2 linked regions of the Homo sapiens genome follow. The protein of the gene in region 1 binds, or shares a complex with, the protein of each later gene. Each region holds a gene or a part of one and is shown in the gene's direction. Other genes may lie near its edges.

What was found.
Region 2: the proteins of ALK (region 1) and ALKAL2 are in contact, whole or in part, in a cryo-EM structure (PDB 9G5I), measured with the Homo sapiens proteins. Residues at the interface, in NP_004295.2 of Homo sapiens: Leu684, Tyr739, His755, Ser758, Leu760, Phe856, His857, Glu859, Leu965, Tyr966, Thr967, Pro968, Leu970, Lys971, Val972, Met973, Glu974, Glu978, Asn980, Val992, Glu994, Cys995, His996, Met997, Phe1007, Asp1009; in NP_001002919.2 of Homo sapiens: Ser112 (codon at 12,539), Lys113 (codon at 12,542), His114 (codon at 12,545), His116 (codon at 12,551), Arg117 (codon at 12,554), Leu118 (codon at 12,557), His120 (codon at 12,563), Asn121 (codon at 12,566), Thr122 (codon at 12,569), Arg123 (codon at 12,572), Asp124 (codon at 12,575), Arg133, Arg136, Leu137, Arg140, Leu141.

What each region holds. Positions count from the first base shown.
Region 1 is NC_000002.12:29,187,215-29,201,769, reverse strand, and holds the end of ALK (ALK tyrosine kinase receptor isoform 1 precursor), read left to right. Parts: intron 1-4,093; coding exon 4,094-4,228; intron 4,229-4,909; coding exon 4,910-5,000; intron 5,001-7,847; coding exon 7,848-8,546; 3' UTR 8,547-8,996; downstream 8,997-14,555. UniProt on the Homo sapiens protein: Neuronal receptor tyrosine kinase that is essentially and transiently expressed in specific regions of the central and peripheral nervous systems and plays an important role in the genesis and differentiation of the nervous system.
Region 2 is NC_000002.12:281,921-298,715, reverse strand, and holds the start of ALKAL2 (ALK and LTK ligand 2 precursor), read left to right. Parts: upstream 1-10,624; 5' UTR 10,625-10,703; exon of another isoform or gene 10,704-10,751; intron 10,752-10,823; 5' UTR 10,824-10,880; coding exon 10,881-11,133; intron 11,134-12,091; exon of another isoform or gene 12,092-12,372; coding exon 12,373-12,426; exon of another isoform or gene 12,427-12,512; coding exon 12,513-12,593; exon of another isoform or gene 12,594-12,787; intron 12,788-15,540; coding exon 15,541-15,605; intron 15,606-16,795. UniProt on the Homo sapiens protein: Cytokine that acts as a physiological ligand for receptor tyrosine kinases LTK and ALK, leading to their activation. Cytokine-binding is sufficient to activate LTK. In contrast, ALKAL2-driven activation of ALK is coupled with heparin-binding to ALK.

The sequences.
Region 1 (14,555 bases):
TGTCGCCCCGGCTGGAGTACAGTGGCGCCATCTCAGCTCACTGCAACCTCCGCCTCCTAGGTTGAAACAATCCTCTCACTTCAGCCTCCCAAGTAGCTGGGATTACAGACGCGTGCTACCACACCCAGCTAATTTTTGTATTTTTAGTAGAGACGGGATTTCACCACGTTGGCCAGGCTGGTCTCGAACTCCTGACCTCAAGTGATCCGCCCACCTCAGACCCCAAAATGCTGAGATTACAGGCATGAGCCACAGCGCCCGGCCTCAAGATCTATCTTGAATGTAGAGTTAACAGGACTGCTGACTGTTGGATGGGAAGTGGAGGGGTGTGGGATAACGGAGTCAAGGATGACTCCTGGGTTTTGGGCTTGAACAAATGCATAACCAGAGGTGCTGCTGAGTTGGGAAAGAATGAAAGAGGAGATGGTGTGGGTTCAGAAGGAGTTCCGTTTGGGCATGTTAAATTTGAGTTGCCTATTAAAATAGGCCAGTGAAGCTAATGAGTGGGCATCTGATAGATGAAACTAAAGATCAGAGAACTGTATGAGATCTTGGTGTATGAGATCTTGGAATCCACTGGATGGACATTTAAAGATATTAATTTTTGGCTCCCATTTTTCCTAAGAGCATAACCTCTATCACACCTGGAGACCATCTTCCACAATGTTTTTTTTTTTCTTTAATCATAACCTCCTTTCAGGTTATGATTAAGGAGAAAAATGTAGCTTTTAAAGGCTGATACAGAACAGCTTGATATTTTAAAATCTTTTATCAGATTATCTTCATCGATTCAAATGTTTAACAGTTTAATCAGCAATAATGTTTGCTATTATTTCTATCAATCATTCCAGGCAGAGCAAGTTTAATACCAAAAGAAAGTGAAGTTTAAAAATATATATATACACATATATATACGTATCTATATACACACACATATATATACGTATATATGTATATACACACATATATATGTATACATGTATATACATATATATACGTATATATATACATATATACGTATATATATACGTATATATATACATATATACGTATGTATATTTGATTTTAAATGCTCTGGTGCAAAGCTTTGGGCTTTTGTCGCTCCTGTTTAGGGCAGGCTTATAGGTGATGAAAGAACCATCTGGCATACAAAATATAGATTTGCCTCATCTGTAGGGTTTCTAGATAAAATACAAAATGGTCAGTGAAATTGAATTTCAGATGCACAGCAAATAGTTTTTTAGTATAAATATTGGAGCATACATATACTAAAAAAACTATGTGTTGCTTATCTGGAACTCAAATTTAACTAGGTATCTGGTATTGTTTGCAAATATGAAAATCCTACTTATTCAAAATTGTCAAAGTTCTATGACCAATACTACTTCTTGCTCCCTTGAACTCTAAACTAAGAAAATAAATATTCATGTGCAGTTCTATTAGTGCTCTCAAAGGATGCTATAACCTATATCTATCTAGAAAAACAGAAAACATATAGCTATAATTCTTTAGGCCTTACTGCCAGTTTCTTGTTCATTTGATTTTGCCTAGTTAGTTTTGCCTTGAAGGGAAGTAAGATCACCAAACAGAAAGGAATAATATATGTGCCAGGCAATTTGTAAGTAGCAAAATCAAGAGATCTCCAAACAGAAAGGAATAATATATGTGCCAGGCAATTTGTAAGTAGCAAAATCAAGAGATCTAATAATGTATTCCAGTCTGTCTCGGATTAGTTGTATAATAACCTGTGCTTCAACCTTCTCACCTGAAAAATAGGGAAAATATCTTTGCCCAATCCTTCTCACAAGAGTCTTTGAAATTTCACACAGATGATGACAATAAAAGCACCCCATGTTTCTTAGAAGATGAAGGAACTATTGTTCTCTACAATTTTTGTGGTAATATTTGCTAACCTCAGAAAACTACAATCACACTAAAAGATAGTCTTTGTCAAAAAGCTGATCATTAGGTAGTGGTTTAAAGTTTTAATCAAAATATCAAAGGTGATTCTTTTAGAACACGAAGAATTCATCTCATAAAGCTTTTAAAAAAACAAATGAGAAATCAAATATTTTTTAAAGAGAAATAGAGAAAAATGCCTTTTCAGATTTAAGACAAATACACAGAAAGTAAAATAGAATGGTATCAATGCAAGAAGCAGACAAATAGATGAAGTGAAAATATAGCCAGAAACAGACCTGTTTTTAATCGTGAGTCAATGGGTAAGGAGGAAATTATCTTATGCATAGTGTTGGAAGAGTAGTTATTTGAAAAGCAAATCAATTTAGGTCCTTACCTCACACTAGACACCAAATTAAATTCCAACTAGATTTAAGAAGAGAGCAAAAACAAACACAACTAGAAGAAGATAGCAAATATTTATCTAATCTTTGGTGAAGGGAAGATTGTATAACTATAAAATAAAGGAAATCATGACATTAAAAAAATAGGTTTGACTATCTAAAAATAAAAATCTTTCTTTGGTATGCTAAAAAGTAGCATTAGAAAGCAACTAAGGCCAGGTGCGGTGTTTCACATCTGTAATCCCAGCACTTTGGGAGGCCGAGGTGGGTGGATCACCTGAGATCAGGAGTTCAAGACCAGCCTGGCCAACATGACGAAACCCTGTCTCTACTAAAAATACAAAAATTAGCCAGGTGTTGTGGTGGGCGCCTGTAATCCCAGCTACTTGGGAGGCTGAGGCAGGCGAATCACTTGAACCTGGAAGGTGGAGGTTGCAGTGAGCCAAGATGGCACCACTGCACTCCAGCCTGAGTAACAGAGTGAGACTACATAAAAAAAAAAAAAGAAAACAACTAATAAAAGTATTTGAATTTTTTATAAAAGGTTAACATCTCTGACATATAAAGAGTGCCTACAAATCAAAAAGAAAATTGATTGATAGATACCAATTTGTCCCAGCAGATAAAAATGGGCAATTCATAGGAAAAAAAAGTGAAATGAATTAATAAACACTTGGGAAAACATCCAACCATGTGAATTATCAAGTCAATAAACATAATTTAAAATATTCTACCATTTTTTCCCTTAAAATCAGCAAAAGTTGTCATTATTATTAAGAATACTCAATGCTGGTGAGTGTGTCTACCACGCTTTTACATGGTGCTGGTAGATGAACAGAGTAACACATTTGGAAACCAAATAATATGCACCAAGAATTTGTCAATATTCATAGTCTTTTGATCTAGTTATTTTACTAGAATTAGCCTACATTTTAATTCAGTAATTACCCTGAATTACTAGATTATCCTATCTGGATTCAAGATCTATCTTGAAAGTTATAGGACTGCTGACTGTTGGATGGGAAGTGGAGGGGTGTGGGAGAATGGAATCAAGGATGACTCCTAGGTTTTGGGCTTGAGCAAATGTATAACCAGAGGTGCTGATGAGTTGGAAAAGAATAAAGGAGATGATGTGTGTACAGAAAGAGTTCCATTTGGGCATGTTAAATTTGAGTTGCCTATTAAAATAGGCCAGTGAAGTTGATGAGTGGGCATCTGATAGATGAAACTGAAGCTCAGAGAACTGTAAGAGACTATGAAATCAGCTGGCTGGACATCCTAATCTAGTAATTCAGAGACTTTATCTTAAGGAAATCTTCCTTTTAAAAAATGCACAAAGATGTTCATTATAGTATTTTAAATATTTTGAAAACTGAAAACAATGTGGAAATGATAAGGCAAACCAACTACTCAATGGAATGTTTTACAGCCATTAGCCATTCCAAATGTTATTTATGAAATGGACTGGCATGGAAAATGTTTATGATATAATGAAATGTGCAGAAAAGTCAAGGTTCAAAATTGCATATTGAATATAACTGCAAATAAGTGAAAAAAAATCTCAGCACAGAAACGACTTAAAAATCAACAGGGGTTGTCTTTTAAGGGAGCATCATGTGTAGTATTTTCTTATTTTTTAAATTTTTCTACATTTTAAGAGTTCTATGTTATGGAAAAGGGTATAATGGGGGAAAAAAAGGTTGAAATTGTATGTCTGTGTGCCTGTGTGTGTGTGTGAATGTGGGTGGGTGTGTCTATATCCATCTCCATGTCCTCTGTCCCATGCCCAGGTCCTTTGGAGTGCTGCTATGGGAAATCTTTTCTCTTGGATATATGCCATACCCCAGCAAAAGCAACCAGGAAGTTCTGGAGTTTGTCACCAGTGGAGGCCGGATGGACCCACCCAAGAACTGCCCTGGGCCTGTGTATGACTCTTTTAGGAACACTTCTGCTAGTTACTAAGCAGTTTTTCTTTTCAAAAAATATCCAGAGCCACATATGCTTCTTTAAGATGAAGGGGCAGATGGCTGCCCTCCCTTTAATATGCCCCAAGATGCGAATGTGACTGCGACTTCAGTGAGATGGATGCGTCTCCCAGGCCCTCAAAAGCAAGGATGCCATCCCAGAAAAAGTATCCATTGTCTGGCTACAGGCTGTGGACTCACCAGGCCTACATTCCCCAAGCTCCTGCTGGGAATGTGTGTCCCAGGCCCAGTCCCTGCTGCCCTACACCGTATGTCTGTGTCTACTTTAAAGATTTCCATTCCCTGCAATGTCTCCTGCCCTGCCTGGCACCCCTCACTTCCTTCCCACAAGCAACGTGGATGGGAAATATAATTGGAATATTCTGTCCCCAAAGTGGCTTTAACTCAGGAATGGAGTGACAGCAGCCGTGGTTAACATAAACATCAGGATGTCTGTGTTAGATACCTTTACACCTGCGCACTCTTCCTTGACCAATCAGCAGGGGGCAGCATAGGCCAAGTACACGGGGCCTAGACGAGTTCGCACCCTCAACGTATTCGTTGCAACCCTGGGGCTGGAAGAAAATATATTTTTCATCATTGTGCTTCTCCTTATTTTAATTAATGTGCTTCTTCTTTTAGATACCGGATAATGACTCAGTGCTGGCAACATCAGCCTGAAGACAGGCCCAACTTTGCCATCATTTTGGAGAGGATTGAATACTGCACCCAGGTAAAACATTTTCTCCCTTTGGTCAACATTTACTCTATATGAAACAGTCTTAAAGATGGCAAATACCGAAATATGAAATAGGTCAAGCCAGTCAGAGTACAAGATTTATGATCAAAATAGTGAAAATTAATTTTCTCTAAAATGAAATGACTGGTGTCTCCATTTGCCCATTTTGTAAAATAAATATTAGTAACTTCACCAGCACACAGCACAGTGCCAGACACACAGTAAAAACTGGGGAATCAATCCAGTCCACGAGAATTTATCAAGTCCCTACTGGGGACCTAATGTTTTAGTAGCCAAAATTGAAGCTTCACAGACGTATGGAACACATCTGCTCTCAAATAGTTTAGAGCCTGGCTGGAGAAATAACAACATGTGAAGTAATTAATTGCATATAAAATTGATAGATTATATGTCCAACTATATATGTCAGGAGGATTAAGGGAATGAAATTTCAAAGTAATCTGGAGAAATTTTAACATCATCAATAATACTTGCTATCATTCATACTGCACAAATCACTTTTTGCGTATTTCGTTTTATCCTTAGTGGGGAATGTAAAATATCCCTACCTTATAGATGAGGAGTTAAGGCCTGAAGAGTCTGTCCAAGTCAAACATTCTTCTAGCAATCCTGTGGGTTCCTCTACAGATCCCTCTCCCATTCCTTCAATAACGACTCGAAATTTTTGCTTCTCTCCCTCATTTTCAGCCGACAGCTATGCTTCCTCCCTCACCAAGAGGGTGGAGATCATCATAAGAGAATGCCCTCATTTCCTCCCTGTCTCTGATACAAACTTCTCTGCCTCTGCCGCCATTTCTCACCACCTGCCTTCCCGTCTCTCCTCCCCTTCAAGGCCAGCCTTGCTGCCAGTATCACCAATCGCCTGCTCAGGGCTTTGTTCTGTCCGATGCTCTCCTCTTCCCTGTATTCACTTTCTTTCCCTCTCTCTTGGTTCTCGTTCTGCCAGGATATCTAATTCTGAGAATATTTTAGAAGAGTCAATAAACCACTATTTATTTAATTTAATTTTGGGAGCAGTCTCGCTCTACTGCCCGGGCTGGAGCACAGTGGCGCCATCTTGGCTCACTGCAGCCTCCACCTCCCGGGTTCAAGCGATTCTCCTCCCTCAGCCTCCTGAGTGACCAGGATTACAGGCATGTGCCACCATATCCAGCTAATTTTTTTTGTAATTTTAGTAGAGATGGTGTTTCACCATTTTGGCAGGCTGATCTCGAACTCCTGACCTCAAGTGATCCACCCGCCTCGGCCTCCCAAAGTGCTGCCACACCTGGCCTACCTACTATTTCTTTAAATCCCCTCCTCTTCATTGTGACTAAAGACAGACACATTTTTCAAACTGTAGTCATTTTCCAGCCTCACTACTCCATCCTCTTATTCCTTTCAGCTCACGTGAGTGAACTGGCATTTTTATCTATAGACTTCCTATATCACGTTATTGAAGGTTCTTTCAGAGAACTCTGTTTAATGACATTAGGTTATTTTGTTGTAATCTGAATGGAATACACCCACTTAAACATATATACCTTCTTAGGAGTATTTTTCTCAATAGTCTATAATATCCCTCTTAAAAGGCAGTTTTACACAAGCATATTTAAAATGATTGATTCACTATAGAAATTACTAAAACACAGAGGGAACTAAAGAATGTTTTAATGAGTCAGAGGTAGTTATTTTTTAAACTCGAACACTCGTGTTTTTCTGTTACTCAGGTAATGAGGGTATTTTCTCAATTTGCATAAAATATTAATTAATTTCTCCAAATTTAATTTTTCTTCCACAAATTTTCCCTAAACTTCTGGCAGCTGCTTCTGTTCTTCTATGTTACAGTCTATTACTGTGAAAATGATCTAGCACACAGTTGTTTTTGTAAATGGTTTTCCTCACAGCACTTCAGCATTTCCTGGGTTGTGCAAAGGGTCCCTCACATCCAGACTAGTTAAAGAATGCCTGTAATCCCAGCACTCTGGGAGGCCGAGGCAGGTGCCTCACCTGAGGTCAGGAGTTCGACACCAGCCTGGCCAACATGTTGAATGAAACCTTGTCTCTACTAAAAACACAAAAATTAGCGGGGGTGGGGGGGTGGGGGGGTGGGGTGCATGCCTGTAATCCCAGCTACTCAGGAGGCTGAGGCACGAGAATGGCTTGAACCCACTAGGCAGAGGTTGCAGTGAGCCAAGATTGAGCCATGGCACCCCAGCCTGGGCGACTGAGCAAGACTGTCTCTAAAAAACAAACACAAAAACATGCACTGTGGTACCTGCACATGTGATGATGTGGCACAGGAAAACTTACAATCAAGTGTAAAGTACCCAAATGGAAATGGAAAGCAGCTGGGAAGAGATCAAAAAATAAACCCTGTAGGCCAACATGGCATGTGTCTCCTCTCCTCCTCCCCCCAGCCCCCCACCATCACTCTTGAAGTCAAACACATAGGCTTTTATTTTTATTTTTTCCAGTTGGAACGATTTTAGTGGAACTAGACTGGAATAATACAAATAATAATCTTAATTTTTTTTTTAAATCCACTAATCTTTAAAAACTGGCCAAAGGTCTCCTCCTCTGCAAAGCTTTTCCTGCTCCACTCTGTCCCAGGCACCCATACACACTTCCATTATAGCGCTTATCCTCTAAGGTCTTTGAGGATAAGGATGACTTCCCATTCATTTTGTATGCCCCAGTGCCTGTAAGTTACTATATTCTCAATAAATCCTGGTTTCCTCATCTGTAGAATATGTTTAGATAACATCATCTCTAAGGTATCTTCTAGATCCAACATTTTTTGTCTCTGATTCAAAGTTTTAATAATTTCCCCTACGGCAGGACCCGGATGTAATCAACACCGCTTTGCCGATAGAATATGGTCCACTTGTGGAAGAGGAAGAGAAAGTGCCTGTGAGGCCCAAGGACCCTGAGGGGGTTCCTCCTCTCCTGGTCTCTCAACAGGCAAAACGGGAGGAGGAGCGCAGCCCAGCTGCCCCACCACCTCTGCCTACCACCTCCTCTGGCAAGGCTGCAAAGAAACCCACAGCTGCAGAGATCTCTGTTCGAGTCCCTAGAGGGCCGGCCGTGGAAGGGGGACACGTGAATATGGCATTCTCTCAGTCCAACCCTCCTTCGGAGTTGCACAAGGTCCACGGATCCAGAAACAAGCCCACCAGCTTGTGGAACCCAACGTACGGCTCCTGGTTTACAGAGAAACCCACCAAAAAGAATAATCCTATAGCAAAGAAGGAGCCACACGACAGGGGTAACCTGGGGCTGGAGGGAAGCTGTACTGTCCCACCTAACGTTGCAACTGGGAGACTTCCGGGGGCCTCACTGCTCCTAGAGCCCTCTTCGCTGACTGCCAATATGAAGGAGGTACCTCTGTTCAGGCTACGTCACTTCCCTTGTGGGAATGTCAATTACGGCTACCAGCAACAGGGCTTGCCCTTAGAAGCCGCTACTGCCCCTGGAGCTGGTCATTACGAGGATACCATTCTGAAAAGCAAGAATAGCATGAACCAGCCTGGGCCCTGAGCTCGGTCGCACACTCACTTCTCTTCCTTGGGATCCCTAAGACCGTGGAGGAGAGAGAGGCAATGGCTCCTTCACAAACCAGAGACCAAATGTCACGTTTTGTTTTGTGCCAACCTATTTTGAAGTACCACCAAAAAAGCTGTATTTTGAAAATGCTTTAGAAAGGTTTTGAGCATGGGTTCATCCTATTCTTTCGAAAGAAGAAAATATCATAAAAATGAGTGATAAATACAAGGCCCAGATGTGGTTGCATAAGGTTTTTATGCATGTTTGTTGTATACTTCCTTATGCTTCTTTCAAATTGTGTGTGCTCTGCTTCAATGTAGTCAGAATTAGCTGCTTCTATGTTTCATAGTTGGGGTCATAGATGTTTCCTTGCCTTGTTGATGTGGACATGAGCCATTTGAGGGGAGAGGGAACGGAAATAAAGGAGTTATTTGTAATGACTAAGCATGGGGAAAGACATTCTTTACTTGAAAAAGAAAAAATCATAGACAACTGAAATGTCACTTTAGGTGACGGTTAGATGCTTTTAATTGTGCTGATTCATCACCAATTGTAAAAAATGTCGTGAGTAGTTCCAGTAGTATAGCAGAAGTGTGTATATACTCATCTCAATGAAATGCATACATTCCAAGTGCTTTGAGTAGGATAAAGCACCAATACAGATCCAGAGATTCAAACATCCTATTAAATATACCTCATGCCTTAAGAAAATCCTCCTACTAGAAGTGAAAAACTGAGTGTGAGGTTTCCTACTGGATTTAAAACTCAAGATTTAAACTACTTATTTAAAAAATTTCCACTAATTAAATTTTGATCATTTAAAAGCAAAAATTTTAAGCAGCAGTGATACATGGAAGCATGGAAACATATCCATTTGTGGGCATAAGCGTCAATACATTTTAGGCCAAAACCTTCTATTCGTTTCAGTCATGGAATGAACTACCAAACTCAAGTTTGTACCTGTAGAGATGGACAGGGCCCCGGGAGGAACAGGCCGCTGGTGGTCCTAAGGAGAGGCACTGATCCAGTCTCTTTCCTTTCACCGTTAACCTGCGTTTTCTCTCCCTTCCTCATGTGATCCAAGTACACTGGGAACATAAATGTGCTGAAATACACATCGCATAATTTGTATAGCTGTCAAAGGCAGATTAAAACAAAGAATTTTTTCCCTAGGAGGCGATGAGGAAAGGAATTGTGGAACCCTTGGAGAGTTGAGGTTGACATTGACATGTTAGAGTGGGAGTTCTGAACTTGGTTTTCACAGATGAATTTTACTTCCATGAAAACGCATTGGGAATCTGTTTAATTTTACACACATACTTATGTGTGTAATGCTTAGAATGCTTTATCAGTAAGTCCTCATTTCATCCTCTTTCTGCTTCTCCTCTAGCCTCACGCCCACTTTCTTTCCTGTTGGTAGCTACACCAAAGCATTCAAGAGGAAAGCAATTCTCTTATTACTTGCTAGTTACTAAACATTACCAAACAAAAGGACTATGTGTGTGTATATTATAAAAAGTATATATATACATACCTTTTTCTGACCTTCTCAGTTTCACCTGCGTCAAAAGCATCACTTTCAGCGTGGGAAAGCCATTATGTTAAAAGCCAACACCAGACAACTCTTCCTTTCTCTGAAGGCAGTTGCCTTTCCCTGGAGTTAGAGTGTACAACTGTAAAAGCACTGATGGCTAGAGGCTACCTTCCTTATCTGCTTAACTGCCAAAAATATTTTCATCAGAGATGCATGAAGATGAAACATCAATGAACTCATCTCTAAATAAATGTATCGGTAAAATTCTGGTTCATGCCAGGCACAAAAGTAGCCTAATCATATACACATTATTTAACTCACAGACCATCTGAAGGGGCTCGAGAATATCACTTTGAGAAACACTCTTCCTAAAGGATACTGACAGAGGAGTTGTCAATAACTGAGAAAAACACCTCCATTTTAGATTTGTAACATCAGTAACCAATTAAGCTGGGAGTAAGCTATCTGGTTAAATAGCCATCTCTTTATTGTTATTCATGGGGAAAATATTACTTCTTTCCACTTTTAAGAACGACAAATCCATTACATTTTCAGGTTGTGCCTTTCTACCACTGAGATTGATTTGTTGATCTCTCTAATCGTCCTTATTGGTATCAACTTTCATGTAAATAATAGTCAAGTCTTAAAAGCTTGTATACATGGATAAGTAAATAAACAACTCCACACTGAGATGCGATGACCTGAAGATGTTTCATTTAACTTGGTGTAACCCATGGGTATCAGCATGGTATTAATCTGGACTATGGTCCACTCGAATATTGCTCCAGGCACATGGCTACAATTCATACAGACGCTATGGATTTTAATAAAGTTATTAACCATGATAGAAAGTTCCACCCAGAATATGAACGGGCACAATTAAAGTTTGCAGAAGCTATGCTAATTAAACCGTAATCTAGCATAATTATTTATATCCTATGTCTATAAGGCCCATCGAAAGTTCACAACTGTTCCACTGGGAAGCTGGCAATTTGTGAGCAATGACCAGTTTGTTAATATGTTGTACCTCAGGATTATAGCAATTCAGACTAGCAGGAATAAACTTTTTAAAAAGAGTATGCTCTACTCAGTAGTTAAAAGGCTGGATTCTCTTTCCACCAGTTAGAGTCTGAGTTCTGACTCCCCTTGAGTTATCTGACCCATTGGTACCTCAATGTCTGCAGACATAAAAGGAGGACAATCACCTCCCTTCCTCACAGCTCCTCAGGGAGATCATGCACTATGTGAAAGCACAGGCGCCCCCTCTTACACCTTGGCAGCCCCCAGGTGAGGTGGGGCTGGGTGTGGGGGCAGGTATGTCTATGCCTCCCTGCCCTCGTGCTCAGCAGTGGTTCTTGTCCCCACTCACATCCAGCCCTCTTGGCTCTTCCCATTTGTGCCATGTTTTCTTCATCTGTCATTTGGTTTTGTTGTTTTGACATATAATAATCATGTGTATTTATGGGGTATCATGTGATACTTCAATACATGCATATATTATATAAATGAAATCAGGGCATTTAGCATATCCATCACCTCCTATAGTTATCATTTCTTTGTGGTAAGAACATTCAAAATCCTCTATTCTAGCTATTTTGAAATATACACTATTGTTAACCATAGTCACCCGACTGTGCAACTGAACACCAGCACTTATTCCTCCTCCTAACTCTAATGACAGTAGCAGGAACCCTGCCAGAACCCAACTCCTTTTCAGCTCAAAAGAAGAACATAAAGTTTCTACCACAATTTCAGTAATTCTTTAAAAAAAAAATTTGGCATCTCCACATAGTACTTAGTAAACCCTATAGCTGTAAGGTATTATGTAACTACAGTAAAGTTTATTCTGTAAAACATGGGCCTTTATATCCAAATTCCCATAGCACACCACTAAGAAATTCTAATGATCAAGCCATTTTAATAGGTTTTCAGTAGTAATAGCAGGATTAAAATCCGTATGAGTTTTACAGACCTAAAAGGAGATGCATTTGAATTCAGGTTACTCTAAATAACAGGCTACGCATGACAAGATTCATAAAATTGTATGAAGTGTGTTGTCAATCTGTCTTTAATGGTTTTTAAAATGAGTCCCTAAAGAACACACAATTTGACTTTGCTAATTTCATTGCAGCAGATGGCTCCTGTGTTGTTGCATGAAAAAGCAAAACCAGCATTCCCGTAATCCTAAACATGCTGCTGTAAAATACAAGATCATTACTGAGAGCAAATAGTAAGGCTTCTATTAAGATTCTACTTTCATTTGGTGTCCTGAATGGGGGTGTTTAATTTTTGATGCACTACTCAGGTGCAAAACATTTTTTAGCCGTAGCCTAACAACTGTAAAACATTTGAAAAACTTGGTAAGAACAAACTACTATACGGGGGGTGCGGGGGACGGGAAGTTACATGAACTATGACCACAAAACTACAGGAATCACCTTCCTCTCTTCAGCATGCAGTAAGTGTAAAACAGGTGTGTTACCCTTGACATGGAAAGATGGCACTACAAGTCTAACCTCAGAAAAAGCACAAATACCAAAATTAGTCTTTAGTGCCTTCACATGTCCATTTCTTATATCCCTCTTCTTGACATCCTCGGGCTCTCTCCCCATCCCATCAATTTCCTAAGACTTATTGCCTCCTTGTGAGAACTAACCCACAGTTATTTTTCCTCCATCACTCAATGTTCATTTCAGCTGGTGTTAGGTGAAAGACAGTCTTATTAAACAAACTCACATTGAAACCTTAGCAGCTAGGGTAGTATTTCTCCCTACAATATTTACATATTAGAAGAGGTATTTGCTAACATAGATGAATATCAAATTGATAAAACTTCAGATGATTATATCATCTCGGATGGTTTAGCATTCATCAATTACTTGAGAAAACAGCAAGCAGACCAGGCAGGAGTTAAGAGACCTACCACTACTAGACTGCAATTACTACCTCCCTGACTCAAGCAAGTTACTGAAACTCTCATTTTATTTAAAAAACGAGGTCAGGAGTTCAAGACCAGCCTGGCCAACATAGTGAAACCCCATCTGTACTAAAAATACAAAAAATTAGCCAGGCATGGTGGCAGGTGCCTGTAATCCCAGCTACTCGGGAGGGTGAGGCAGGAGAATCGCTTGAACCCAGGAGGCGGAGGTTGCAGTAAGTGGAGATCACGCCACTGCACTCCAGCCTGGGTGACAGTGCAAGACTCCATCTTCTATATACATAGAGATATATATAGAAGGCTTTGGTCTCAAAGGCCCCTTCTAACTGTCAAGTCCATGATTCTGTAGGACTTCACCTGTGTAAGGTAAATTCCAACACCCAGTCATTATCAGTGGAGCATCACTGGTGTGTGCATGTGTCCTTGACCTTAACTCTTATCCCAGTGAGACAAATCATATGTAATCTTTATGTAGAAGTAGACCAGAGAGTTTAGTATCAGTCCTGTTTATTCAAAGATCTTTCTATTCAAAGATCTCTTTAACAAATCATCAAATCCTTACCATAGCAAAACGAGATTAATCAGGGATGATTTCCAGAAAGCAGCAAAGCCGGCAGAACTATGAGTCATGTCCATTTAATGACTTTCATGCTTTCAGTGCCACATCACTTATTTCTCTTTCATTACATTTGCTATAATGGGAACCTTATTAGCAAAGTAAAACCATAAAACTTATCTTTTATCACACCTAATATTTGATGGTATATCTGATGCACTTTCTTTTTGTCAGTTGACAATTTGCACCTCTTAGTGCCTGTATTAGTCTGTTCTCACACTGCTGATGAAGACATACCTGAGACTGAGTAATTTATAAAGAAAGAGAGGTTTAATGAACTCACAGTTCCACATGGCTGGGGAGGCCTCACAATCATGGTGGAAGGCAAAGGAGGAGCAAAGGCATGTCTTACATGGCGGCAAGCAAGAGTGTGTGTGCAGGGGAACTGCCCTTTATAAAACTATCAGATCTCATGAGACTTACTCACTATCATGAGAACACCATGGGAAAACCTACCCCCATGATTCAGTTACCTCCCACCAGGTCCCTCCCGTGACACATGGGGATGATAGAAGCTACAATTCAAGATGAGATTTGGGTGGGGACACAGCCAAACCACATCGGTGCCCATTCCCAAAGTGAGGTGGCAAAGCCTAAAGCAGGCCAGGTGTTTGAGAGCAGGAGATGCCTGTGGATTCTGACGCTCCTCAACAAGCGCATCCAAGTGCCATTATGATGGGCAATTCATGAGGAACAGGAGTCTTCTCTCACAATCACCATAGAATTGGATAGAACCCCTCTCTTCAGGTTTTATAGAGCTATCCACTGCCATTGGATGGCAATTTTTGGAGATCTGTTGTGAACCATATAGCTTTATAATGGATCCCTAGAAACAGGGAATCCAAAAATATAGCCAATTCAAACAATCCACCAAGATAAGATTGTGACGACTGTGGGCAAATTTCCTATATTTTA
Region 2 (16,795 bases), about 29 Mb from region 1:
TTCTAAATATACAATCATGTCAATGACAGAAGTTTTAAACCTGCGAGCTGGGGGAGGGACTGCGCCGCTGAAAGCCAGGCCTGTTGATGGTGTCAGCACAGCAGAAATACTGCCAATGCTCCCTCAAAACTGTAAAGAAAGGTGAATTTCCATTTGAACATATATAGAGAGAAATACATGAACTACATCTGATGTATTGTATTGATTTCTGTCCATTCAGCAGCACAGCCTGGGAGTCACTACTGATGGGGGCCCCAGATTCTGTGAAAGCAGAGATGACAACTAAATGGGACCCAAATTCCTGAGTGGTGGCATATGCATTGTGACACTCTGAATGAAGTTGTAATCGCTACTTCACCATGACAGGTTCTAAGACAACAAAAACACAAAATGTTACCACATAAACACAGTCCCCGAGACATAGGATTCTTAAAGGAAAACCAGGAATGTATTTGGTCAAAGTCAACTAAATTATGAACAGTATGAAAAAAAAACATAGCCAGCTGCTTAGTTTATAGAGAAAGTTTATATTTACTAATTTATTCAATACTTTAAAAAGACCTACACACTATAAAGAAAGGGAGAGCAGCCCCACTTTGCTCATGAGGAGATTAAAACCCCAGAGCCTCAGGGACTGGCTGTGGCCACAATGAGTGTCGGAGTAGGAATCAAAATCAGCTGCCCTGGCTGGTCTTCTCTGACTCAAAGCCTTTCCTTAACTCTTACACATGACTGGTGGGAGTGTAAACTGGTACAGCCACTAAAAAGCTAAAACTGAGAACAGAGCCTCCATATGATCCAACAATCCTCCTACTGAATATTTATCAAAGGGGAGGGAAATCACAATATGGAAGGGATGTTTGCACCCCGCGATTATTGCAGCACTATTCACAATAGCCACGATGCGGATTCAATCCAAGTTGACAGCAACAGCAGGTGAATACAGAGGAAATGTGGCTAAATACACACTGGAATACTACTCAGCCTTAAAAAGAAGAAAATCCTGTCATGTGCAACAACATGGATGAACCTGAAGGACATCGTGCTAAGTGAAATAAGACAGACACAAAAAGAAAAACACCGCATGGTCTCACTTATATGTGAAGCTAAAGAAGAGCTCACAGACGTGCTGAATACAACAGTGGTTATGGGAGTGGGGTGCTGGCAGAGGGAGCTTGGTTAACATGAACAAACCTACAATTACAAAGGAAGAAGTTCTGGTCTTCTCATAGGGTGAGTAATTGACTATATATTTTCAAGCAGCAGAAGAGAGGATTTTAAATGCTGTCAACACAAAGAAACGATAACTGAGATGATGGATATGCTTATTAGAGTGATTTGATTATTATACATGGTACACATGCACCAATATATCCCACTGTACCCCATAAATACAATTATTACATGTCAATTTAAAAAATCCATGGAAACAAAAAGTAGAATGGCTTTTGCCAGAGTTTTGGGGAAGAGAGAAATGATGAGCTAATGTTTAACGGGTCCAGAGATTCTGGTCAGGATGATGAAAAGTTCTGGAATTGAACAGTGGTGATGATGGTTGTACAAAATTGTGAATTTACCTAATGCCACAGGGCTGTACTCTTAAAATGGTTAAAATTGTGAGTTTTATGTTACATATGTTTTATCAGAATTAAAAACAAAAGAGTACCTGCATTCATTTTGAGACAAAACAGAAGTCTCCTCCTTCACTTTGAAGGTGTCAGCTACCAGCACATAAAGACAAAGAGAAAACCTCAGGGTCATGTTTAAACACATCTGATTTATACTGAGGACAAATTAAAGAAAGTAATTTATGTAATGAAGAGTAAACTTATGGAACTCATTGCCAAAAGAGGAGGTACAGACATAGAAATATTCAAAGACATCTACGAGAAATTGTTCAAACATTTATTGACAGCAGCCTAAGAGAACGTGGAGCACGATAAGGTTTGGAGTCACCCTGAGGTTCACATCACAGCACACAAAGAGCTTTTTGCCCCACTGCCACTGTGCCCTAGTGCATTTCTGAGGACTGGAATAGGGAGGTGGATGGACCTGCAGGTCCTCCCCATGGCACAAACGCTGCACCTTGCACACACCTGGGTCCCTGCCATGTCTAGCCCTAGCCTGTGCACAGTGAGGAGAGTACACCTGGTTATCAGGACAGAGTCACCTCTAAGACGCCCAGTGCCTAACTGCACAGTGAGGAGAGTACCTCTGGTTGTAAACACAAGGTCACCCCGAGATGCCCAGTGCTTTTACATGGTGAGGGCAGCACACCTGGTTGTCAGCACAAGGTCACCTCTGAAATGCACAGTGCTTGTACATGTGAGGGTATCACACCTGGTTGTCAGCACTGCATCACCTCTGAGATGCCCTCCCGTTCACGTGTGTAGCAATAAAAAAAGTCTGGCTTAACAACTGTCATTCTCAGCTCCCAGTCAAAGCAGAATAGGGTGTTGTGCTCATATTTAAAGCTTCATTTTGTATTGTATCTGTTTTTAGAAATTGTCTATTTCTTTGTCCACGTAGGCTAAAGTTACATCTTCAATAAGCCAAGTAATAGGAACTTACTTTGCTCACCGCAGTATGTGTGCCTGCTCCTAGAACTATGCTCAGGATGTGGCCGGCACATGGTCAGTTTTTGCTGAATGGAGGAAAGAATTAAATTTTGGAGCCTACACATGGTCCCAAGATCACGGCTATGTTTTCAATGGGACTTTTAAATGCTCTTACAGAAATGTTCATACTGGGAATGCCAATGTCAGGATGAAACAGGTGATTTCTAAAAAAGATGATTTTCTTAGGAAGCCAAGACTTTCTCTACTCTCCATCCTCATCTCCATGCCCCAGTTCTGAGCCTCCTCCTTTTTTCGCCTGCATCACTATAAATGTGGCTGCATCCATGCTGAGGTTTCAGTTCAAATACCTTGATACCTTGTCCTCAGAGATGATTCTACAACCACCTTATCAGACGTAGGTCCCCTTCGCCCTCACCATCTCATCTCTGTCTCAGCATTTGTCTCTCTTCCTTCTTCCCTCTTTCTTCCATGCTCTTTTTATAACTTCCTACTATTTCATATAGTTATCTGTTTGCTGGTGTTTACCTTCTGCAGCAAGTGAACCATGCAGGAGGGACTGTCACACCTGCAACACCTGGTGCAGTGCTGGACACGGGGGACACTTCGCATCTCTCTACTTAGTGACAGCATCTGACGGAAGGAGGGAGGGTCAGAAAGCCCCCTGCTCGCCTGTCTGCCCATGGGGGAGGGTGGGCAGAAGGAGGCAGGACTGGTCTGTCTGCCTACGGCCCCAAACCCTTTTGGTCCATCATCCATAGCTACCTCCATAAAACACAGATCTGATGATGTTGGTCCCTGCTCAAGGCTTGTCAATCATTTACCACTGCCTGCAGGATGAAGTTCAGAGTACTGAGAGTGGCATTGAGAACAGCCTCTTGTCCTCTTCTCTCTCCTACACTCTGTTGCAGAAGGGACCCTCACACATTCCAAGCGCACTGTGACCCGGCACCTTGGCTTCTTTACATGTGCATTCCCTGCCCCTTTCATCCATAAACCAGCCTCAAGGGAGTGGCCCCACACCCTACACTCCGTCCAGACTCCAGGAGCACACGACACACGGGACACACTACACCAAACAATGCAGGTTTCTTGTGGACAGAATTTCTCCCCTCTGTCCCTGAGCACCCGAGGACTCAAGCAATGGCTATGGGATGTGTGAGCAAATCAAAAGTTCTCAGCACAAATTCTCCCTTCCTTCCTGGAGGTGCAGACTGTTTCTGTTTGACGTCCATTTCCAAGCATGTCCAACCCATGGCCCATGGGTCACATGCAGCCCAGGACAGCTTTGAATGTGCCCAACAGGAATTTGCAAACTTTCTTAAAACATGATATTTCTTTGGTGATTTTTTTTATAGCTTATCAGCTATTGTTAGTGTTAGTGTATTTTACATGTGGCTCAAGATAATTTTTCTTCTTTCTTCTTCCAGTGTGGCCCAGGGAAGCCAAACGGTTGGGCACCCCTGCCTCCCGTTTCTCCCGGGGCCAGTAACTGGTCTGCCTTACACTGGTGCTGCCTGTCTGCTGTGGTCTCAGCGTCTGTGTCTCTCCAAAGTGCTTGTGCCGAAACCTGATCCCAAGAGTGATGGTGTCAGGAGGTGGGGCCTTTGGGAGGTGATGGGGTCCTGAGGATGGAGCCTCATGAATGTGATTATTGTCCTTAGAAAAGGGACCCCAGAGAGTCCCCTTGCACCCTCCACCACGTGAGGACTCAGTGAGAAAGTGCCATCTATGAGGAAGGCGGGCCTCGTGTGAGGACTCAGTGAGAAAGCGCCATCTATGAGGAAGGCGGGCCTTGTGTGAGGACTCAGTGAGAAAGCGCCATCTATGAGGAAGGCGGGCCCCACGTGAGGACTCAGTGAGAAAGCGCCATCTGTGAGGAAGGTGGGCCTCGTGTGAGGACTCAGTGAGAAAGCGCCATCTATGAGGAAGGCGGGCCTCACGTGAGGACTCAGTGAGAAAGCGCCATCTATGAGGAAGGCGGGCCCCACGTGAGGACTCAGTGAGAAAGTGCCATCTGTGAGGAAGGTGGGCCTCGTGTGAGGACTCAGTGAGAAAGCGCCATCTATGAGGAAGGCGGGCCTTGTGTGAGGACTCAGTGAGAAAGCGCCATCTATGAGGAAGGCGGGCCCCACGTGAGGACTCAGTGAGAAAGCGCCATCTGTGAGGAAGGTGGGCCTCGTGTGAGGACTCAGTGAGAAAGCGCCATCTATGAGGAAGGCGGGCCTCACGTGAGGACTCAGTGAGAAAGCGCCATCTATGAGGAAGGCGGGCCTCGTGTGAGGACTCAGTGAGAAAGCGCCATCTGTGAGGAAGGTGGGCCTCGTGTGAGGACTCAGTGAGAAAGCGCCATCTATGAGGAAGGCGGGCCTCGTGTGAGGACTCAGTGAGAAAGCGCCATCTATGAGGAAGGGGGGCCTTGTGTGAGGACTCAGTGAGAAAGCGCCATCTATGAGGAAGGCGGGCCCCACGTGAGGACTCAGTGAGAAAGCGCCATCTGTGAGGAAGGTGGGCCCCTGTGAGGACTCAAGAGAGAAAGCGCCATCTACGAGGAAGGGGAGCTTCATCAAACACCCAGCCTGCCTTGATATTGGACTGCCAGCCTCCAGAACTGTGAGGAATATGTTCCTGTTGTTTATAAACTACCTGTGTATGATATATTGTTCTAGGAGCACACATGGACTAAGACAGTGTCTCAAGCACTCTTTGCCTAATGGACTGCATTATAATAGTGGCAAAAATATCAGAGACAGCAGTCTTGAAATGTCCCCACGGTTTTAAGGAAGGGTCAGGTGAGCAAAATATAGACTGTTCTTATGAATTCATAGCCCTAGTATATCCTAGCCAACCACACTTATATACCATCCTAACAGCACAGGCACTGGGCCTGGGGCAGCAGCAGGGGCCCTCACCCACAGGTCTGAATCCTACTCCACTGGACTGAGCCCTCACCCACTGTTCTGAGTGCTGGTCACATGGAAACTTACTAATTCAGGATATTTCAGTCCACTTCTAACTATAGATTTTCTATGCAGCTGTGAACAAGTCACCAAATTCTGATGCCCCAGACATTCTCTAGGATTGGATAATGCTCTCTTTCATGCCATATTGTAAGGGATAAAATACAGGAAAAAAGAGGCCATTATGACAGCAGACACTCTGAAAGGCAGTAATAGCAATAATTGGTCAGTTAAAAGAAATTTAAACTATACTAAAAAGTTAACATACTTTATCTTATTTAATGTTTATAAAACCTCTGAGGTTGTACGTACTCCTGTCATTTCCGACATGAAAAAACTGGGCTCAAAGAAGTTGTCTTGCCCAGGTTCACACAGATGTGAGCAGGAATCAGAACCTGAGCCCATTTCTGTGGCTTTGAAGCCCACGTCCTTTGCAGTCCGCTATGCTGCATTCTTGAAAGAAAGTGGAGTTCAGGTGAGGTGACTCTCCATCTGTTCCTCCCACCCTCTTCCTACAGCCCAGTCTTCCCAGCAGATCCAAGAGGTTCTGGGGCCTCCTCCTTGGAAGTTTGCATATGCAGTTCCCTCTATCCAGGAGGCATCCCCATCACTGTGCTTAGCTTATCCTAGAAACAAACAACAACCCACTTTGGTAGGTGGTGCCTTTATGACACTTTGGATGTCTCTGTGATGAACCTAGATCATTGTGTGTGTCACTTCTGATCAGGATATCTGATTTCCTGCAGAAAACAGATGGAATGCAGATATATTGGTGTTGTTACTCAGCATCTATGACTATATTTTGTTGAAATATTGTCATGGATAATATTTTTCTGATATGTTGATGATTGGTGTGTTCTTTCAAATTTATTCTTACTACTTCCATCAAAAGATGTCAGATTGGTGCCTCCAAATGGCAAGTAAGCATCACAGTGGTTTCAGAATTTATAACTAAAATCCAGTTTGAAGGAACAACGTAAAGTCCATACTTCCTTTAAGCCTTTCCCCATGAAAAGTCCTCTTTATCTTGGCCTGGAACAATAAATTTTTTAAAAAAGTAAATCAGCCATGCTATCTTATCCCAACCCTTTAAATACAACTTTCACCTAATTTCTCTCCTGAACATGCATAGCCGTGTGCATCTGCAGATGCAAAAGCAGTGTTGAAGAATGGGAAGGGGTGGATGACCATGTTTTTGGAATCATCTTCTTCCTCCCTAGAAGGGGAGAAGTGTTACATAGAATGCTGTACTTCATTGATCTAGAATAAGCTGCAGATATCATGCATACATTATCACTTGTAAGAGTCTATATTTATTACATTTATACTAGGAAAATTAATCCTGTTAGAAAGCTTGTCTTCCTAAATGCTTTAAACACTGTCTAGTACGTGCCTAGCACACTAATAGCATTTTGATAGCTTAAAAAAGCAGAATTGGTAAATATTAAACAGTAAGCAATATTTGTTTATAGTACATGATGTTATCCTTTATGAAAGGTGATTTTTTTCTACAATACAAACTTCGTTAGATTGTTAAATGATTGCCATAATGATTGAAAAATATAACAATTCATTTTAAAGCATGTGGTTAACACAGGTATTTTAGAAGTCTTTGAGGGCAGCTAATATTCATCTAAAATTAAATACGTACCCTCTGGATGAAGAAAAAAAATGATTGCAGTCAAAACATCAGAACTTTAACCTGTTTATGAATTGAAAAAATCAACTCACCCATCTCAGGACCTATATATAGTACTGTTAGGGTAGATTAAATACAGGTTTTTTTCCTCTGCTCGGTTTTCTTCCTATGATCCAACACAGTTTTCTCAAAAAGATAACCAAACTAAATCAAATCTAGAAAAAAATTTTTCCAGTAATTCTAGAATATAGTTTGTTGCTAATTGTATCTCTTTTCTTTTTGGCTTCCTGCTTGAAAAGCACGGGTTTGAAGGGGTCCACTTACATATTTTTTTTCAAACGTGGGTCGAAAACACAGCAGCTGGAGGATGCGAAACGCACACAGAGGGAGGGCAACTTTCCGTATTTGCGTGTTCCACAGGCCCCACTGTGAGACGTGAATGTGCCTGGATTTCGGTATCTGCTGGAACCAGTCCCACGCTATACCAAGGGATGACTGCACACCTATTTCTGATGACTGGAGAACTCCAAGGGGTTCGTCTTGACAATACCATTAACTTAAAAATTCAATAAAGATTAACAAATCGGTGGTACACTCTAAGTTTGTTAGTCTGTAAAAATTGTTTCTATAATATAAAATGAGCAGCACCTAGATAATTTTGGCAGAGAACTTTGTAAAAATAAATGAACACATAAATTGTCTGACTCTTAATTGTAAGATCTCATTAATCCAAAGACCAACCAAGCATCAGCTCTGTTGCTGTTGATTATCCACCAAACCTCTACTAACCTGGGCGGAAGTCTTGGCCCACACTTGGATGGTAGAAAGGGCTCATTCAAGGAATCCATTTGTCCCATTAAAAACTGCAAAAGAAAAGACATAATATTAATTACTAGCAAGGCTTCCTCGGTAGGTAGAATTTGTGTGTGTTGGGGGAAATAGATCCTACTAGCATTTTATAGAAGAAATTTAGCTTTTGATTTTATAAAATACTATTCTAATAGGTCTATGTAAATTTAAAATAATACGTGAAATGTGTTTTCTTCTTTTTACCATACAAAGATTTTTTTGAAAAACTGTCTTACACCAAGCTATTTTACAACAGTAAAATCTTCTCATGGTTCTATTTTTCTGGGAACTGCGGTGTCCACCAGCTGCGAGGTGGGCCCGGCAAGCAGGACCGGGAGCAGGGCCGGGGAGGGCCGGTTCCATCGCCAGGCGTCGCTCTTGCCCGTGGAACTCAAGTGTCTTCTTGGACATGGGAAGGGGAAAGAGAGAAACGAAAAATGCCTCCTTTTATGTGCCTAAGGTCTGTTTGACATAAAATTTTACTTTTTCCTGAGTGTATTTTAGCAGAAATGTTCACATTTCAGTCATGTAGCTTGCAAAAAGAAAAAGAAAAGCCTCGCTGTGAAATCAAACCATCTGTTTTTCAAGGGAGCGGAGAGAACGCAGATCCCAAGGGTGTGGGGCGGGGTCCGGAACCGGCACATTTCATATCTTCTCTCTCCACGCTGCCTCCCCGCCCAGCTCTGCCGGACACTTTCTCCTCCTGAGGAGACAGACCCCGTGCAGGAAGAGAGAAAGGACGCGGGGACGGGCGCAGACGGGGCCTCTCCGGGAGCTGGGGGATCGGGGCGCGGAGCCTTCCGCCCGCACCGCCCGCGCTCACGTGCGCCTGGGCCAGCACCTTCCCGCCGCGGTCCTGCGACTGCCCCGATCATGGTGCAGGCCTTTAATTCTCGCCCACTCCGCCTCTCTGATTGCACTCAGAACACCTTTCCCAAACAGATCGCGGACTTGGAAGACGTCCAGCTCTTGCCCAGAAAGCACCAATCGAATGGGAAAGTGCGCAACTGATTGATAATACATTTTACAAGAATAAAATAAAAGAGGCAAATTGCTGAACTTTCACAGATGTGCCGGGCTTCGGCCAAAGAGCCAAACTTTCTTAAAGACGAGTCCGGGAGGCAAGTGCCCTCCTGCGGGCGTTCCCTGCCGGGGCGCGAGGGACCCGCGGGCCGAGGGTCCAGCGCAGAGGAGCGCGCAGATGGCGCGGTCCTTGCCGGGGAGGGACCTTCGCTCGTCCTCTCGCAGGGGGTCTGGGGAGGGGGTGCAGGTCCTGCCCCTCCTCGGGTGGTCAGCTGTGCGCACCTCGGGGGCCGTGGAGAGTCCTCACCCGCCCATCTCCTGCCTCCTGGCCGCCCCGCCTCGGGGACCAGGGCTTGGGGACCCGAACCTGGGGACTGGGCTCGGGCGGGGCAGACCCCTCGAGGTCCGGAGAGCGGATCCCTCCAAAACGGATGGACTCTAATTGACTTATTAAATGTCGAAGCAATCAGGCAGCTCCCTTTTTAATAGCCCAAGATCTACATTTAGACAAAAACAGAACCGAGTTCCTGGTAAAGGCGTTTCTTCTCATCCTGTCACAAGTGACAGGAACGGAGGGAAACAGACTGGGGGAGGGGCGGGGGGAGGAGAACAGGGGGAAGAGGAGGAGACGGGGAGTGGGGGAAGGTGGGGCAGGAGAGGAGGAGACGGGAGATGGGGAAGGTGGGGAGGGAAGGGGCGCGGGAGACGGGGCGCGGGCGAGGGGGAGACGCGGTGGAGATGCGGGTGGGGGGACCGGGCGGGGGCGGGGGCGGAGTTGAGGGGGAGCGGGAGACGGGGGGAGGCGAGAGCGAGGTGAGGCGGGGGGACTGACGAAGATCCGCATGGGGGTACTAACACTTCAGCGGCTTCTAATTAAAGCCCCGCTCGGAGCCCTTGGGGACCCGCCTGACGTCGGCGGGCGCGGGGATAAGAAGCTCCCCGAGGTCTGAGGCGGGACTCGGAGCCGGCGCACCCCAGGTCGGCCGTGGGTCCAGCGCTCGGAGCGGCCGAGTCCCCGCGTCCCGTGCGCTCCGCCCGCCGGGCATGGAGTAGTGGCGCAGCTCGGGGCGCGGGGACAGACGTGCGCACAGACGGCGACGACTCCGGCGGCTCCAGGTAACCGGCCCGGCCACGACGCGCAGGTGGCTCCCGGGTGGCGCCGGGCAGGTGCGGGAGGGCGCCATGGCCGGGAGGTGGAGGGGCTTCCAGCACGTGGCGCGGCCGGGGCCAGCGCGAGGGTCCGCACCCGGCCTCCTCCGTGGGCTTCGGGGACTCGGCGCTCGCCGGCGACCACCGCGCAAAGGCGACGCTGGAAACTTGAGCGCGGCCGCCGGGCCCGGCGCGCGGCGCCGCCTTCTTGGAGAGCGGTAGGCGCGGGAGCGCGGCCCCTCCGAGGTCCGCCCGCGGCCGGGGAGCTGCCTGGCACCCGCGGCTTCCAAAGGGGAAAGAAAGTTGCGCCCGCGCCAGGCGCAGCGCGCTCGGCGGACGCGGCCTTTCGGGCGAAAGTTAGGAGGGGCCGGGCTGGCGGGCGGGCGGGTTCCGGGGGCTCCTTTCCGCACCAGCGGCGGTCGCTCCCCGTGGGCGGGACCTCGGGCGTGATCGTCGAGGAGACCGCGGCTCCCTCACCTGCCGGCTTGTTCCTCGGGGTCCGCGGAGGTGAGGGGCCGGGTCCAGCGCCAGCGGCTCCTCCCGCCTCCCCTCCCCTCCCCCGCCCCGCGCTCCGTCCCCCTCCCCCGCTGACTTTCTCTCCGGCCCCCCGCGCCCCTTCTCTCGCAGCGAGCCCAGCTCTCGGCGCGTGTCGGAGTCTCCCAGCCCCGCGGCCCCGAGCGCACGATGCGCGGACCCGGGCACCCCCTCCTCCTGGGGCTGCTGCTGGTGCTGGGGGCGGCGGGGCGCGGCCGGGGGGGCGCGGAGCCCCGGGAGCCGGCGGACGGACAGGCGCTGCTGCGGCTGGTGGTGGAACTCGTCCAGGAGCTGCGGAAGCACCACTCGGCGGAGCACAAGGGCCTGCAGCTCCTCGGGCGGGACTGCGCCCTGGGCCGCGCGGAGGCGGCGGGGCTGGGGCCTTCGCCGGAGCAGCGAGTGGGTGAGTGGGGCCGAGCGCGCCCGAGGGCCGGGGCTGCTGGGAAATAGAATTGTCTTTGAGAAACACGTTTCAAAAAGAGACATCAATTTTGACCACTGAACAGCAGGATTCCTTTTTTTTTTTTTTTTTTTTTTAAGAAAAAGAAAATAGCAGCAATAGGTCCGCGCATGAGGCCTGGCGGAGAAGCGCCTGGTCTCCTTCTGGCGCGCGTGAGCTGCGGCGCGGGTCGGTGGTTTCCACACTAAACTGTCAACCGTCACTTTGGAAATGGAAGCATTTCCAGCAAAGCTTTCCCAACTGAAAAGGAAGCATCCAGGCTCCTTCATGGCCCTGCCCAGAGTGGTGGCCCACGGGGAATTTCCCAGGAAAGCATGAAAGCGTCTAATGCTTTTGTGACACAATCAGGTCAAACATGATAAGGTCAGTTTTATCCCGGCTGCGTCAAGTTAGGAGTGAATGAAGACTCACTAGGGGGTCAGCTGTGGATGCGAATGCTCCTCTTCAGAGGGCGTGACTTCACACACAGTCGGGGCTCAGCCAGGAGCCCTGAACGGGGGAGTGAAGATGGAGAGGGCTGTAAATACGCAAAAACAAAGCTGAACTCAAGAAGAACGCCCTTGCAGGGTTCTCCCCACCCACTGTGTGCGGAGAACCCTGGTGGAAGAAGTTTGCTTGGCAGAGTCTTTCCCTGGGATTCTTACCCTACAAACCAGGTTCATGCATATTCCCACTAATTTACACCTCACTGAAACGTGGTCTTTTAATCCTTACTCTAAATATGTATCTAGATAAAGTAATGTTCTGTAACCCATTTTTTTGTTTGAAGGGTCAGGTTTTCTCTAAAAACTTTGAAATGTTGTGGGATTTGATTCCCAAGGTCCTTAAAACTAAAGTGCCTAAAAGTGACTTATTCACTGGAAGTTAAATGTTTAAAAGAAAAAAAAAACAGTTTTCTTACCTCTGTAACTTCGTGGTCTCTGTCTGCATCCCACGGGGTAGACAGCCGACATAATCCTGGAGCTTCAGGAGCAGTTACTGTTATTTCAAGGAAAATAAATGTCCCTGATATTGAGTCTTCTTCACTGTCGTGTGTTGCAATCCAGGGCCCCAGTCTTTTTTATTTTGTGCAAAGCAACTTGGCTAATATGGAGCTCCAATTTTCTTCAACATTCACTTAAGATCACATTTTTAAAAAATGCGTCCTTCAGGTAATATAATACTTTCTTTTCCCTGAAACAGAAATTGTTCCTCGAGATCTGAGGATGAAGGACAAGTTTCTAAAACACCTTACAGGTAAGTTTTCTCCTCGTTCCTCACGTCTCCCAGAGCTCCTTTTCACCTGTGAGTCTTCATGATCTGTTTCTTCTTCCGTGTTCCAGGCCCTCTTTATTTTAGTCCAAAGTGCAGCAAACACTTCCATAGACTTTATCACAACACCAGAGACTGCACCATTCCTGCATGTAAGTAACAGCATTGGATTTTTATAAAATGCAAGAGCAGTGCAGGCAGCGGTTCCCCTCTTTCCATTTCCTCATATAGGCCCCTGCCTTCTTAGCTCAAATTTGCCTATTCCTTCCTCACTATGGAGTTAGGGGCCAAGATCGCCAGACCATTGCAGAAGATAACTAACTTCTGCATCAGCTAACGCCAAACTGGAAATTATTTACAGTCATTGGAATAATAGGCTCTTGGGATGGGCTGAACTCCGATTCTCCTCCTGTTAATTCTCCTCCAATGCCCATGTTTGTGTGTACTCTACTATGGCAGTCAGATGTTAAGAATGAGTTGCTAAACTGACTCCAAGAATAAGATTGACCTGGATCATCTCCACTGCTCTTACCAGAGACTTTTTCTTCCCATTGGTAATTATAACCTCATCACCCAGGAATTTCATTGTGATTTCAAAACTGTTTCTCTGGCTGGCTCCATCACTCCTTCAGAAATGCAGAGCTGCCCTTATCAACATAGCTCTCAGCAGTAGCTTTCTCTCCTGTTTCTTTTCAGTCTTCCTAACCTGCTTTTGGCTATTTATTCATAACAAAACATTTTATTTCTCCAAAAGTAGCTCCTTGTTCTCTTCACTGAAGCCTTATTAGCTACAGTGATAGGGCCCTAACCCATTTTTTTTAATTCGGACTCCAACTTTGATTTTATTTAAGGCTCACAGGAGAAAAGTCATGCAGAAACACTAGGCATCCTGCTAACTGCTGTCATCAGGGCTCTCCAGCTGGACCAGGCAGCGTTCCGGACTTGCTGTCCTGCCTTCCCTCTCCAAAAACAAACAAACGAAAAGCCAATGTACACGAAGTATAAGTGCTTTTCTTTGTTTAGGCAGCAAAATTACTTCAAATAATAATAACCATCATTTATAGAGCTGCTTCTGTGTGCCGGGTGCATGCCAATGAACCTTGGCCCACTGAAGTAGCGTCACCAGCGCGTTTTGGACAAGGCTAAGGCACATGCACTTTTAGCATTCACATCACCGCACAAAGATGCATGGAACGCAGCCTCGGCCCCTCTGACCATACCTTTAGCAACATCATCCTCACGCCAAGGCCAGCAGCACACACTTCCTGAAGAGTTTTTATATTCTTGGTGCTGGGCCCCACCCTTCCATGTGCACCTGGCACACTAGTACTCTCCTGTTTTCTTCTTTTGGAATGTAATCACCTGTTTGGGAATCATTAATGTGGCTCTTGGGGCCAGAAAATCTTGTCGTTTGTATTGTTTTGATGTACATATATTTTATATTACCTATTTCCTTACAGTAATAGGATCATAGATTCCAAATTTGGAAGTGACCTCTGAGTCATTCAGTCTCATCTTTTCATTTATGGATGAGGAATTGCTTTTGTGCTGTCAGATATCAGCAAAGCTAAAGCACAGATCTCATGGTTGACTCTGCAGGCCTTTTTCCAAGGCATCATGCTGTGCCTGCATTCGATACCTCCTTTTGCTCACAGCAGCTCGGCTTTGTGATACTAAGCTCCTGATCACAGCTCACCCTGGGCCATGGAGAGGGAGAAGGCTGAGAGATCTGTGCCTTGAGATGGGTGGCCACTTTGTTGCTTTCTGCCTCTTCTTAGCCCATAAAGAACTGCAGAGCTGAAGTTGGACCACTTTTTTACTGCGTCAGGCTGTATAAAAGAAAATCCTTGGGATCCTGGAATATCAGACCTGAAGGAACTTTAGTGCCTTCTCAAAGTGTGGTCCCATGGGGAGCTTGTTGGGAATGCAGAACTAAGTCCCATCTAGACTTGTTGAACAAAATCTGCATTTTAATAAGATCCCCAGATGATTGGTCTGCACATGAAGGTTTGCAAGACATTGCTGAAAACACCTGGGTTGAGCAGGATGTGGTCAGCTGGGACCCTGGACATGGCCCAAGTGGAAGTCTTCATTGATTAGATCAGCCATTGAAATCACACATTCCACTGCCTCCATGATGTGGAATCTGTTTAGGAAAACTACATTCTAAAAAGCATGGTGCTGCTTATGAAAGAGAAAGCCAGGCGGTCAGATGACCCAGTGCCACTGTTTGGCCCTTTGAAAAACATTTTCTGTTTGAAAAATCCCTAACAATATATGCCATATTTAGGAGGCGTATTTTTGGAAGTAGAGCTGGCTCCTTAACTAACATATCGTACACATTTGTCATTGTCAATCTACCCATTCAATTCAGATTTTCAGTTGGGTATAAATTCTTCCACTTTTAAGTAGGATTTTGTTATTGAGAAATAAACTGTAATAATTTACAAACTATTGCAGCTTTCCATAGATCTTCACCCAGAGGACATATTTTCCCTTATGGCCATGCCCATTACACCTTCTTAATTTCTATAGGCAGCACGGTCAGAATAGTGGAATGGGAGACTGTGTACGATACCAAGGAGTATCAGCCAGCGCTTAGAAACGGGCACATTGCTTCCGCTCGCCATCCACTCCAGGCCTCTGCTCTGCTGCCTGACTTTTGACCCACTTTCTTTAGAATTTACAGGCAGAAGGCTTTGTCCCATGGTCAACTCAAGTTGGGATTCAGCCTGCACATGACCTGAAAGTAGCACAAGGGTACGGAAGGATTGTCACGTAGGAAGCGAAATGAAGTTATTTCTGAGAGAAGCAATGGGCAGCCAGCTCAGCCATGCAGCCTTCGTGTCTGTCCCTCTTCCCTCCGCTGCCCCACTTACATCATCCGACTTCTGCCATTGAAGCTCAAGCCCTTGAAGCACCATAAATTATTAAGTCAACAACTTAGAATGCATGCCTGCAGATTAGACTCCGTATTGCTTCCAGGGAATTCAGATATTTGAAGAAATAAATGGCTTTAGTAGCTGATATACTTGCAAAAAAATGCGATTTATTTGTTTTTTAAGTAACTGACAAGAGTCTGATATATTTTCACCGTAGACTATAAAAGATGCGCCAGGCTTCTTACCCGGCTGGCTGTCAGTCCAGTGTGCATGGAGGATAAGGTAAGCTTGGACAGACACACACTGGAGCACATACCAAAGATGGGAATCCCGCTTGGGACATGAAAAATTCATGGGAGTTTAGGAACACTCATTCTTTGGCTGAAGTAGCCATATTCTAAGTAGAGATGGCACAACACTCATCTCACAGTGCTGAAAGCCACCCTACTGGCTTGTCTACAGGGCCCCGGCAGCTGTTGTTAACTGCTCACTGCATGGCACACGGGCACTAAGTGGGTCCTGCTCTGAAACACAGCAAGTCAGCCAGTGTCAGCATGTGACTGAGTGCGTAAGTCAGGAACAGACTAAAATTGTCCGTTTACTTCGAGGCATTCATTCATTCACTAACACAAGTGAGTAGATGACCAACATTGTCCCTGCAAATTCAGATTATCACATCTGGTACATGTTTGAGTTGTAGTCATAAGCTCATAAAGAACAGCTATCCTCTTTAAATGTTTCTATCAATGGTTTTTTTTTTTCACAGCCTCTAATAGTAAAAATGTAAATGCATACCACGTTTATGAACTAAACTTTGCACCTTGGCCCCTTGAGGGCTGATATGCAACATTTAACACCAACCATCAGCGGATGTTTTGAAGGGTAAGGTTTTATTTTCCTGACACAAATGCCACAGAATCCAGTCACTTTAGACAGCAGGATGCAACTGTAATTTCACCAATTTTATACTTACTATGTGTCTTGTATATGTGGGCACTGCCAGATGCTGGCTACACCAGCACAAGAAAGACAGGCTTCCTGTCCATTGATAGCTGTCCGGAGCACATTCATGAAAAGGGAGTATTTTTATAGTGGTTACTCTAGTTTCTCTCATGTAAAATGGATGAGGGTAGGGTAGTGCTCTTTCCTATATAGATGTGCTCTCTATGCAGAGGCAGTGCTTATGAATATTTAGGTAGCAGCAGAAGGGTTGTGTGCATGACCCCAACACCGGCAGGAGGCATGGCGGGTCCTGCCCATGCATCCCCCACTCCATCTTTCCCAGTAGAAGAAACTGCTGCTAATGAGAGGAATGGCACTGGGGGAGGGAGGCCAGTGGGTAATGGCGGGTTGAGACTGCATTTTGCACAGTTTCACTGCACTTTTTCTTTGGAGATAGTGAAGGTGTCAATGTCAGTCAAAGCTGGGAAGTGCTGTGTAGTAATGTCTCCCCACATCCCTGCTCTTTCCAA